Regions from separate parts of the Homo sapiens genome. Here all the other regions are reported to be linked to region 2. The links are microRNA targets in miRTarBase. Many come from high-throughput screens and were not tested one by one. Region 2 holds a microRNA gene; each other region holds the end of a gene's coding sequence.
The links. The annotated mature microRNA hsa-miR-3178 reads GGGGCGCGGCCGGAUCG and lies in region 2 at 2,665-2,681, shown strand. An mRNA with a match to its seed (bases 2 to 7 or 8) in the 3' UTR can be bound and repressed. Matches are read on the target gene's strand: a 7mer-m8 pairs with bases 2 to 8, a 7mer-A1 pairs with bases 2 to 7 and ends in A, and an 8mer does both.

Region 1: the mRNA of MALL is a reported target of hsa-miR-3178. Seed matches in the 3' UTR shown: 7mer-A1 at 2,211-2,217 and 7mer-m8 at 2,065-2,071.
Region 3: miRTarBase lists EPG5 as a target of hsa-miR-3178. The part of its 3' UTR that is shown has no 7-base or 8-base seed match.

The regions. Positions count from the first base shown.
Region 1 is chr2:110,082,923-110,086,305 of GRCh38, forward strand. MALL (mal, T cell differentiation protein like) reads right to left here. Exons shown (of 4, transcript NM_005434.5): 4 at 948-2,835. The coding sequence ends at 2,773. Among named protein-coding and RNA genes, the nearest start is that of MIR4436B1, 1.9 kb to the right of the region's middle.
Region 2 is chr16:2,530,815-2,534,659 of GRCh38, reverse strand. It overlaps MIR3178 (microRNA 3178), which reads left to right and starts at 2,655; the gene lies at 2,655-2,738. AMDHD2 (amidohydrolase domain containing 2) reads right to left here. Exons shown (of 11, transcript NM_001330449.2): 11 at 3,243-3,845. CEMP1 (cementum protein 1) reads left to right here and starts at 3,252. Exons shown (of 1, transcript NM_001048212.3): 1 at 3,252-3,845. The coding sequence starts at 3,587. RefSeq lists enhancers at 1,970-2,019, 1,320-2,021, 2,800-2,849.
Region 3 is chr18:45,849,894-45,853,276 of GRCh38, forward strand. EPG5 (ectopic P-granules 5 autophagy tethering factor) reads right to left here. Exons shown (of 44, transcript NM_020964.3): 44 at 1-2,756. The coding sequence ends at 2,574. Among named protein-coding and RNA genes, the nearest start is that of SIGLEC15, 26 kb to the left of the region's middle.

The DNA.
Region 1 (3,383 bases), not on the chromosome of region 2:
AACCTCATTAGCAATTTTAATTTTGCCTCCATCCTGTGGTCCTGTGATCTCGCCCTGCCTCCATTTGCCTTCTGATATTCTATTTACCTTGTGAAGCACGTGATCTCTGTGACCCACACCTATTCGCACACTCCCTCCCCTTTTGAAACTCCCTAATAAAAACTTGCTGGTTTTACGGCTTGTGGGGCATCACGGAACCTACTGACATGTGGTGTCTCCCCTGGATGCCCAGCTTTAAAATTTTTCTTTTGTACTCTGTCCCTTTATTTCTCAAGCCAGCCGACACTTAGGAAAAATAGAAAAGAACCTACATGACTATCGGGGCAGGTTCCCTGATAGCCCACTCCTGCTGGGGCCTCTGAGAAGCCTGCCAAGAGCCTCGGGGTGTTCCCTCCAGAAGACAAGAGCCTGGGGAGACCCCTACGCTGAGAGGAGGGCTGCCCCTCAAGGCAGAAAGCAGCACTGCAACAGCTGTGGGTGGATGGACTTTGGGGGTCCAGGCTGAGCCTCTAGTGTCTGCACGTGGGATGGGAGGCCGGTGTTTGTTGAGACTTGGACAAGTCTTGCAGTGTGGCAAGAGACGATGGCCAGTGTGCAGCAGAGAGCCATGCGGGGGTCAGCTCTCCTCCTACTGAGCCCTCTTCACCTCTCCCAGCCCCTACTGGTGCACTCCCATTTTTGCCTAAGCTGTATGAGTTTGGTTTCCGGAACTTGCACCCAAACTGTCCTTACTGAAGTACAAATGACATTATAAACCCGAAGCCCTGGAGACAAATGTGACCTCCCTTCGCTCTTGCTCTAGAAGCAAGGCCGGGTGGGCTGGGATCCCACCCTCAGAGAACTTAGGTTGTGAAATGCTCCAAGGGGTGCTTTTCTTGAAATTACTGACAACACCTAGTACCTGATGGCCAGTTCCAGATGCTAACAAGATGAAGTCGACCAACTGCTCCTTTTTACCAAACAACTTTTATTTGCATGTGGCTACTTAGTAAATAGTAATCAGTGATCATCCTAGACAGCTGCCAGGCAACAAAAGGAGAGACACATAGAAGCTTTTCAAGGTATCAGGTTGCAAAAAAAAAAAAAAAAAAAAAAGTATCAGAGTGATCAGAAAGTGAGCAGTGAGCAGTAGTGAAGCCAGAATTTTCTTTCCCATGACTCCTGTAGTTCTGTCCCTGTCCCCGCAAACCCCAGGAGGGGAAAAATGTAGATACAAAACTGTAAGGCCTCAAACCAGTTAGGACAAGTCCCTTTCTCGTAATAATTTATTTCATTCCCAATGACAGAAGGCACGTGCAGTTACAGGGCTGTGCCCTATTCGTCTGGGTCAACAGAAGAGCACAGCTTTCTTTAGAAAAACATTTACTTTAAAACCAAGCACCTTGATTTGATATTTTAGTGTGCACAACTTTGCCCGTTGAGGTCCTGGTGAGCCCTTGCCCAACCCCGTGGGCACCACCATTCCGCCAGGCCTCGGAGGGCCACCGGGTGCTTAAGAGAATGTGAGGGGGGTGAGTGCAGGTGGCGCAGCGCGGTTCCTGGGACATGGGTCCTTCACTCCTCGCTGAGATGTTGCGGCAGCCTTTTCTTCCAATGCGGTTGTGGCAGGAGAATCCACGGATGTAATGTTTTCACCTTTTTCCCTGAGGGTGCTTTCTGAGGAACCAGTCCTTAAGAGGTGGGGTCTTGGATTCCTGACCCAGGCGTCCGGCAGCTGCTCAGTTTCCGAGATGTCAGACTCATGGAGGAGCAGGCTATGCCCTTCCCTCCCCATTCCCCACCCCTCAAGCCCCAGGTCTTACTGTATAATGATTTATTTTCCCCACACGTCTACCCTCAAAATTGGCTTCATGCAAATTTCCCTTGAATCCTAATGCTGGAGAGGAAAGGGGAGGGGAAGTGGGAGGGTGGTGGGCAGGGTGGCTTGACCCTGTCAGCCTCCCAGGGAACTCGGGACCACGGCTCCCCAGCACAGGCTGAACAAGTACCAGGAACAAGGTCTATGCATCTGCGTTAGATCTGAAGGCCTTGGCAGCACCTCTTCAATTTTAAGAGAATCAGGCCGGGCGCGGTGGCTCACGCCTGTAATCCCAGCACTTTGGGAGGCCGAGGCGGGCGGATCACGAGGTCAGGAGATCGAGACCATCCTGGCTAATACGGTGAAACCCCATCTCTACTAAAAATACAACTAAATTAGCCGGGCACGGTGGTGGGCGCCTGTAGTCCCGGCTACTCGGGAGGCTGAGGCAGGAGAATGGCGGGAACCCGGGAGGCGGAGCCTGCAGTGAGTGGAGATCGCGTCACTGCACTCCAGCCTTGGAGGAAGAGCGAGACTCCGTCTCAAAAAAAACAAAATAAAACAAACAAAAAAAAGATCAGACTGAGTATTCCCCTAGACCTACTCTAGGGAAGCCCATAGCTGAGGCAAAATCCCCAAACAGACTTGGCATTAGTGGGGCTAGGATTCTCCATTAGTGGAGTGAGGGCTTTGATGTGAGTTGTCTAGAAGAGCAAGTTCATGGTCAGATAATTCCAAGAGACAGTTGTTTTCCCAGGAAAAAGAAAAGCTTCCTCCTATTCAGCAGAGTGAATTTAAATGTCCAAACAAAGTGTGGTGTCATCGCTCAGTCTGCAAGGACGTTCTGTTAATCCCGTGGACGTTTTAGTGGATCTTCCGTTTGTCATCCAGATGGCAAACGTTGGAAGCTGCTTTTGGGGACCAATAATTGGAGCTTTCAAAGAGCATTTCCCCCTTGGCCTGGCGCCTGTGCATCAGTGGTAATAGATGCTGAAGGCATGGAGAATGTAGAGCAGCGTGGCGATGAAGGCGAAGAACTGGAAGGAGGTGGAGAGTGACTGTTAGAGACAGCAGCGCCAGCTCCTGCCCACCCCTCAGGTACCCTCAGCCCCACTGCCCAGGAGGCCACGCATGACCCTGCCTCCTCGCCTCCTGCGTGGCCTGAGGGCAGCAACCCCTGGCCAACAACTCCCTCTTCTGGAAACTCTCCATCAGGGCCTCCCTGGGGCCGTCCTGGTGTCCTGCCCCGACTGCAGTCTCCACCTCATCTGCACCTGGCTGTGAAGCAGGCTCACCTCCACCACAGCTCTGGGCCCATATCCCACGCTGACCTCCTGCCCGAGGCCCGCTCTCCTCTGCCCACCTCCAGCAAATCTGTGTTCTGAACACTCCTACAGCTCCCCTCGCTGGCCCAGAACTCTGCCCTGAGCGGCTGCTTATCAGCTCCTCGTGAATGTTCAGACATCCTCCAGCTCTTCCTGGCTCACACTGAGCCCCTGACGTTTCCTCACAAGCCTGACAAGCCCAGTGGGCCCCAGGGTCCTCCTCTCGCCCCACTCCCTGAGCCTGACCCCTGTGGCCCCTG
Region 2 (3,845 bases):
GTTTCCAAGCCACCAGGTAAATATCCTCCCATATAAGCCATACCAAGGGAGAATCAGACTTGACTGGGAGTCAGGAAACAGAAAGTTGCATGAGATCTTAGGCAAGTAATTTCCCCTCCTTAAACCTCAATTATCCCCGCTGTAAAATGGGCTGGCTCAACAACTGCTAAAAGTCCCAAAAGTGGAAAATATCCAGTGTTGGTAGGAATGCAGAGAAAGGGGCACGTTCATGTACCGATGATGGGAACATCATATTTCCTTTAAACCTGAGCACTGGGAATTCCTGTCCTAGGCCCTTCTCTCTAAAAGGCAGAATAATGTCCTCTCCAAAGATGTTCTCATCTTAATCTCCCAACCTGTGAATATGTTATTATATAGAGAGACGAATTAATCAGCTGACCTTATAGCTGGATAATTATGGCTAGGCATGGTCGTTCAAGCCTGTAATCCCAGCACTTTGGGAGGCAGAAGCAGGAGGATGATTTGAGCCCAGCGGTTCAAGACCAGCCTGGGCAACACAGTGAGATCCCATCTCCGTAAAAAACTAACAAAAACTGGGCGCAGACCAGGCGCGGTGGCTCACGCCTGTAATCCCAGCCCTTCGGGAGGCCGAGGAAGGTGGATCACGAGGCCAGGAGTTTGAGACCAGCCTGGCCAATGTGGTGAAATCCCATTTATACTAAAAATACAAAAATTAGCCAGGCACAGTGACAAAAATTTAGCCCAGGACTTCAAGATCAGCCTGGGCAACATAGTGAGATCCCGTCTCTTTAAAAAACAAACAAAAACTGGGCGCAGACAAGGCGCAGTGGCTCACGCCTGTAATCCCAGCACTTCGGGAGGCCGAGGTGGGTGGATTACTTGAGGCCAGGAATTACAGACCAGCCTGGCCAACACGATGAAACCCCGTTTATACGAAAACTAAAAAAATTAGCCAGGAACTGGAGGCTGAGGCAGGAGGATCACTTGAACCTGAGAGGTTCAGTGAGTTTGCAGTCAGCTGAGGTAGCATCACTGCACTCCAGCCTGGACGACAGAGTGAGACTCTGTCTCAAAAAAAACCAAACAAACAAAAAAAACTGGGCGTGGTGGCTCACACCAGTAATCCCAGCACTTTGGGAAGCCGAGGCACGCACATCACGTGAGGTCAGGAGTTCGAGACTAGCCTGGCTAACATGGTAAAACCCTGTCTCTACTAAAAAAAAAAAAAAAAAAAAAAAAAAAAAAAATCTGGGCGTGTTGGTGCATGCCTGTAATCCCAGCTACTGGGAAGGCTGAGGCAGGAGAATCACTTGAACCCAGGAGGCTGAGGTTGCAGTGAGCCAGGATCGCGCCGGGCTGGGCAACAGAATGAGACTCCGTGTTAAAAAAAAAAAAAAAAAAAGGCTGGGCACAGTGGCTCACGCCTGTAATCCCAGCACTTTCAGAGGCCTAGGCGGGCGAATCAATTGAGGTCAGGAATTCAAGACCAGCCTGGCCAACATAGTGAAACCCTGTCTCTACCAAAAATACAAAAAAATTAGTCAGGTGTGGTGGCGTGCGCCTGTAATCCCAGCTACTAAGGGGGCTGAGGCGGAGAATCGCTTGAACCCGGGAGGCGGAAGCTGCAGTGAGCAGAGATCGCACCACTGCACTCCAGCCTGCGCAACACAGCCAGGCTCCGTCACACACACACAAACCGAACTGCAAAGTAATAGCAAAAGTGTAAACCCATTTAGAAAAAACGTGTGTGACATAAATGTGATAAAAGGAACAGGGCCAGTCTGGGAGGGAGTACCCGGACGCTCCGGAGCTGTCCCAGACTCCAGGGGCGGAAAAGCCGGGCTGAAGAGGTGCCCTTCCTCCACGCTTCTGGTGCCAATCTCCCCTGCTGCGCCCACCCTGGGTCCCTAGCCTGGGCTCCAAACCAACTCCGAGCTAGGGAAGCTCCGAGCCAGGGTGCTTCTAGAGTGTCCGGCCCACCCCTCCGCTTCATTTCCCAAGACAGTGAGGGCGGGGCTAGAGGCCAGGTGCGGAGGTGCGGGACAGGAGCCAAGCTGGGTCGTAGTGGGATCCACCTGTGCGTGATACGTAACAGAAGGGAGAGGCGAGGCGCGGGGAGGTCCGCAGGGATGTGGGAGACGCGACGGGGAGGACTGGGACGAAACAAACTAGGTCCGCAAGGGTATAAGGGGAGCAGCTCGGAGGGTTGGGGCGAGGCGGGGTCTACAGGGGTGTGGGGGGCTTGGCAGGGAGCGCTGGGGCGACGCGGAGCTCCGCAGCGTTGGCGGGGAGCGTTGTGGGGAGACGGGGTCTGCAGGAATGTGAGGGCGCGGTGGGGAGCGTAGCGGGGTATGCAAGGTTGTGAGGGTTGTGGATGGGAGGGCTGGGGCGAGGCGGGGTCCGCAGAGATGTGGGGGGCGCAGAGATGGGGGGGGTCCGCGGGCCCGCCGGGGACCGCGCAGCCTCGGGCTCTGTGCCCGGGGCCGCGCGGGTTAACTAGAGAAGGTGACGCGCGCCCCTGTTGCTCAGCCGCGGCGCGTGCCTTCCCTGCGGCGATCCTAATTGGCCCGACAGAAGCCCGCCCCCAGAAGCCCCTCCCACAGTAGGCAAGGCCCCGCGTGCCGCAACGCTCCCAGAGTTGCGCGTCAGCCTGGACTCAGCGCCTGCGCTACGAGGCTGGGCGGGGCGCGGCCGGATCGGTCGAGAGCGTCCTGGCTGATGACGGTCTCCCGTGCCCACGCCCCAAACGCAGTCTCTGGCCTGGATGTGCTCGGAGCCCACGAGGTGCAGAGGCTCGGACGGCGAAAGGGACCTGGCTGAGATCTGGGTCTTAAACCGCGGGCTCGGCCCAGCATCCCGGCAGCGTGCGCCCACAAGTGACACCCGGCCGGGCGCGGTCTGCGGGATCGCAGGCGCCGGGTCTCATCTCCAGTTCACACACGGGACGAAACGGGCCACCCCTACCAGCTCTGAGAGCATGCACCTCCAACTCCATCCCTCCCCACATGCCCGACCCCCCAACCCGTAACTCAGGCAGACACCTGGGCGTCCCCCTTCAGCGAATGCCCACACCGCGGGCAGGCCTGCCCCTCACCCCGCAGTCAGGGCGCCCTGCATCCTTCTTTGTAAAACCCATAGCTGTAGAGGGAGCGGAATGGTGGGGCAGGGCTGGGAGCCCAGCGGGAGTGAGTGGTGGGGAATGATGGTGGCCAAGGTCACACAAAGCAGTGAATTCACTTCATGTCACAGAACTGCTCAGGTTACGATAGTTACTTTTGTTATGTATTTTACCACAATTTTTAAAAAGCAAACCAAAACCAACCAAGAGTGCTTCCCCCACACCTCAAAATCATCCTGCAGCAGCTCCCTGGCCCAGCTCTCTCTCACCCTGACCCTGGGCCCCTCTCCCACCACCCAGGGCTAGCCCTGTGGACCAACCATCTCTGCCAGCCCCTCCCCGACCCTCCAGCCAGGGAGGTGGGGCGCTGGCCGGTGAATGGGGCAGGCCAGGCCCAAAGGCTGGCCCAGGGCTCACCAGCTCTGGACTGGGCGTCCCGTCTGAGGTGGGGATGACCAACATGCCAGCTCTGGGTTTTAGCTGAGGATGGGCACATCAAGCACTGACAGCCAGCAAGCTGGGCACAGGCGATGCTCAACCTCTAACACATCGGCTGAGAACCTCACCTGCCTCTCCCTGCCTGGGAGCCCTGGCAAGACAGCTCCTCTCCCAGGCCCAGCACAGGCAGGCGCTGGACAGCCACTTCCTAAGGGGTGCGCGGCCGTCAAGGCAGAGGTGGGTATCCCTGCACCTCACACCTCTCAGGAGGTCAGGATCCACATCCGTCGCCTGCTTTCCTGGGCTG
Region 3 (3,383 bases), not on the chromosome of region 2:
CATCTGGCAGGACCTCCCTCCCTCTATGTCTGGTGTGTTCCAGCATTCTGCCCTTCACTTGTTCTATTAATAGGCAGTGGGACAACATGATTCCGGGATGCAGCCTGCCTCTGCAACCCACCTGTGCACTGCAGCATGGGGAGTGATGGAGAGGGAGAGAGATGTTTTTCATGGCAACCAGAATCCTGCCTCCTCCTGCTCCCAGGAAGCTGTTAGACATCTTTATTTGGTCCCGATGCCACTGTTGGCCACCCTGTGGTGAAGTCTGGAGCCTGCAGCCGTTCGCCCTCCACGCTGCTCAGTCCACAGGGCCTTGGTCTTGCTTGATTCCCGTCTTGATGTGCGGCACCCATCACTGATTCTGAAACCACAGCCCCGTGCTCTCTGGAGGCCAACAATTTTTTCAAGCCAAGGCTCATTACCCCTGCAAGCCAACAGGCGGGCTGGTCTCTCTGCCGCCCTTCTTTCCCAGGAGGCTACAGCAGCATGGCCATGTCTGAACTAGCTCAGTGTCTTTATAGCACGTTCCTAGCCCAGAGTTTCCCATAGACACCTAGGAGTTGAGTCAACCTTCCAAGGTTAAGCAAGAAAGAGTTAAAGAGGAAGCGCTTTCACTGACCATCTCTGATTATTAATGAAGTTCAATGTCAAATAAATTAAATGACATCAGGCATAAAAACCTACAGCAACTTTAACAGCTGAAACACTTTACAAGATAGTGTGATATCCCTATAATTTGGTTTTTAAACAGTTACAACCAAAGATAAATGATTTTATTTTTTATAATTTTTACAGACCAAAAAACATTATACAGATTAATCATAATTTTCTTTAAAATGTGCATACTGTCACTCAAAAATTTCACATCCTAGGATATCAGTAATTATATCCTCCTCAAAGAAAACACAAAATATTTCCAAACAAAAATCGCTGTTGCCAGATCAGACTATTAAATTGTCCACAGCTTCTCAAATTTTCTTATACAGAGAACAAGATGATTAATTTTGAAAACGGAGAGAAGCAAAAATAAGAAAAGCTGAGACAGATCCCTCTGAGACGGACATTTTGTGGCCTGTAAAACTCAAGAGACTAAACAGGGATGTTCTTTATCAGAGCTGCAAAGCGTGTCTTTAAGGCAGAATCGTTCTGTCCAAGTAAAGAAATTCAAAGTAAAGAAAAGCTCCTACCAACTTCCCAATTTTGGGGGAAGCATTCCAAAAGGACATTTGAGGAGAGATTAGCACTCTGTTAACTATATTCCTATACCCCTATAAACATTCTTGGTGGCTGTTTAGACATTTTTAGGTAAATATTCTCAGGCTACAGACTACCCATACACAAAGACATATTAAGCCAGCTATGCAGGCAAAATCCATCTAGAGCTGATAGAATGAGGAACGTGGGAACAGAAGTCAAACTGCTCATTCCCAGGAGAAATAACATGAGCAAGAAGATGGCCACAGAACAAGGCAAAGTTACACACAGGCTTTGGTAATGAATGAACTGTCAACAACAGAAGGCACGTGGCTATGGAAAAAAAGCCAAATTTCAGTAGATCTCCCGACCTGACCCAGTTTCCACAGACAAGTGTTTCAGCAGGTCCATTGGCTTCATCTGAGTTTGAAGTTAAAAAACAAGCAGGGAACAGAGAATCAGGTCTTCAGTCTCCCTCAGTCTCTGTCTCCTGACACTGAGCCTTTCAGATATCGAACATGGTGTCTATCAAAGGGTGCAAACTTAGGTGTCGACAGGGGCAAGTGATGTGAATGAGGCTAGGGTCAGGGCCCGAGGGAATGCACAGACTCTCCCGACTAGAGAGAGGCAGCCCTGTCTGCACTCCTCACCAAGTGGACCAAACAAAACATCTGTGCAAAACATGCTCCTCCCAGACTGCCAGCTTGCCATCCTGATTCAGACAGGCAGCTTCTCCATGAGGATACACGGCTGGATGGAAATTGACTTGTCATCATCTCTACTGCCCACTATAATCACGATCAAGTGGTCGTATTTTACACATGACCCACTTTAACTAACTCGGCATTTTTATCTCCCTTCTGAGAAAAACAATACTTTAAAACTATTGTATTTGTCCACATTTGAGAAATGCAGAAATTTTTCAAAATTGACTTCTTTACTTTGGAGGAACACAAATGGGGTTTAAAAGTAAGGGTACTGAGTGACTTCCAAGGTTGTCAGATCTGGAACATTTACATAAAACAGAGACAGAAGTGGAAACATACAAAGAACTCCATCTGGAGGTCTTGTGAGATGACTGGGACATTCGGCAACTGTGAGTGGCTCTGCACCCAAGTGGAACTTAGTAAGTTTCTCTTGTGGATAAATATAAAAACTTAAAGAGTCCCCAGAAGGTCTTAAGAGCTAAGAAAACACACACACACACACACACACACCCCAAAATTATCTAATATCTAACGCCTCCCAACTTGCATCTCAGTCAACTACACATTGGCCAAACTGAGCTCTACAGTGCAATTGAGCAAAGTTACTTGTGCAACAGCAAAGTTAAATGTAAACATAAACAGCAATGGGTTTTTCAAGAGCCTCAGTGTTAACTATCGTATGTGGTCCAAATAATGCACTTCTGGATACAGACAGTTAACGAGAAGAGCCAAGAAGCTTTTCCCATCTTGAAGGCAATGGCCAGGATGCCTTATAAATTGGGTGGCTTGCAATATTTGATCCTGGTATTCAACATACTGCTTACTTGATGCCATGGATTCAAGAGCATTCAGAGCCTAAAAGACACGGAAGATGAGAGGGTTAACTCCATAGAGGCACATAATGTGACTGCCAGAGGTACAGCACACCCATTATCACTGTGTACTTCAACTGTGAGCCTTGTGGGAAGGAGGCCTACAGAACTGAGGCCAGGAGTCCGGAAGGCAGGCATTGATTAACTTAACCACAACCAGAAGGAGGCCAGCAGCCCAAGCCTCTGTGGCCTTTGCAGCATCCCACACCCAGCCTTCCCTGTTTCTGTTCTGTGCCATTTCCCAACCTTGCCTTACCAAGAGCCACTGCTGTGGCAGGCTGCTCTTGTTGCTGGGCGCCTCACCTGCCACACCGATTTCTAAAGCCTGCCTTGTCCTCGTTCTCCCCAGTCCCACCTGTGGGGTCCTCCCCACCAGATTGTCCACTCCTTCCGTTCTAGGGCGCAACCGGAAATCCCAGGCACCAGCCTCATCTTGCTAAGGTGAAATCTGTTCAATCTGCTGTTGGGTATGTTCCTAGGTTATGAGATAATGTTATATGAAACTGTCTAACGGAAAGGAATTCTAGAGGAACCAGTTGCTAAGTGCTGCCAAGAGTAAGTGAGAAGGTTGTTAAATCAGCCAACAAGCATGAAGTACATAGGTTCCTCC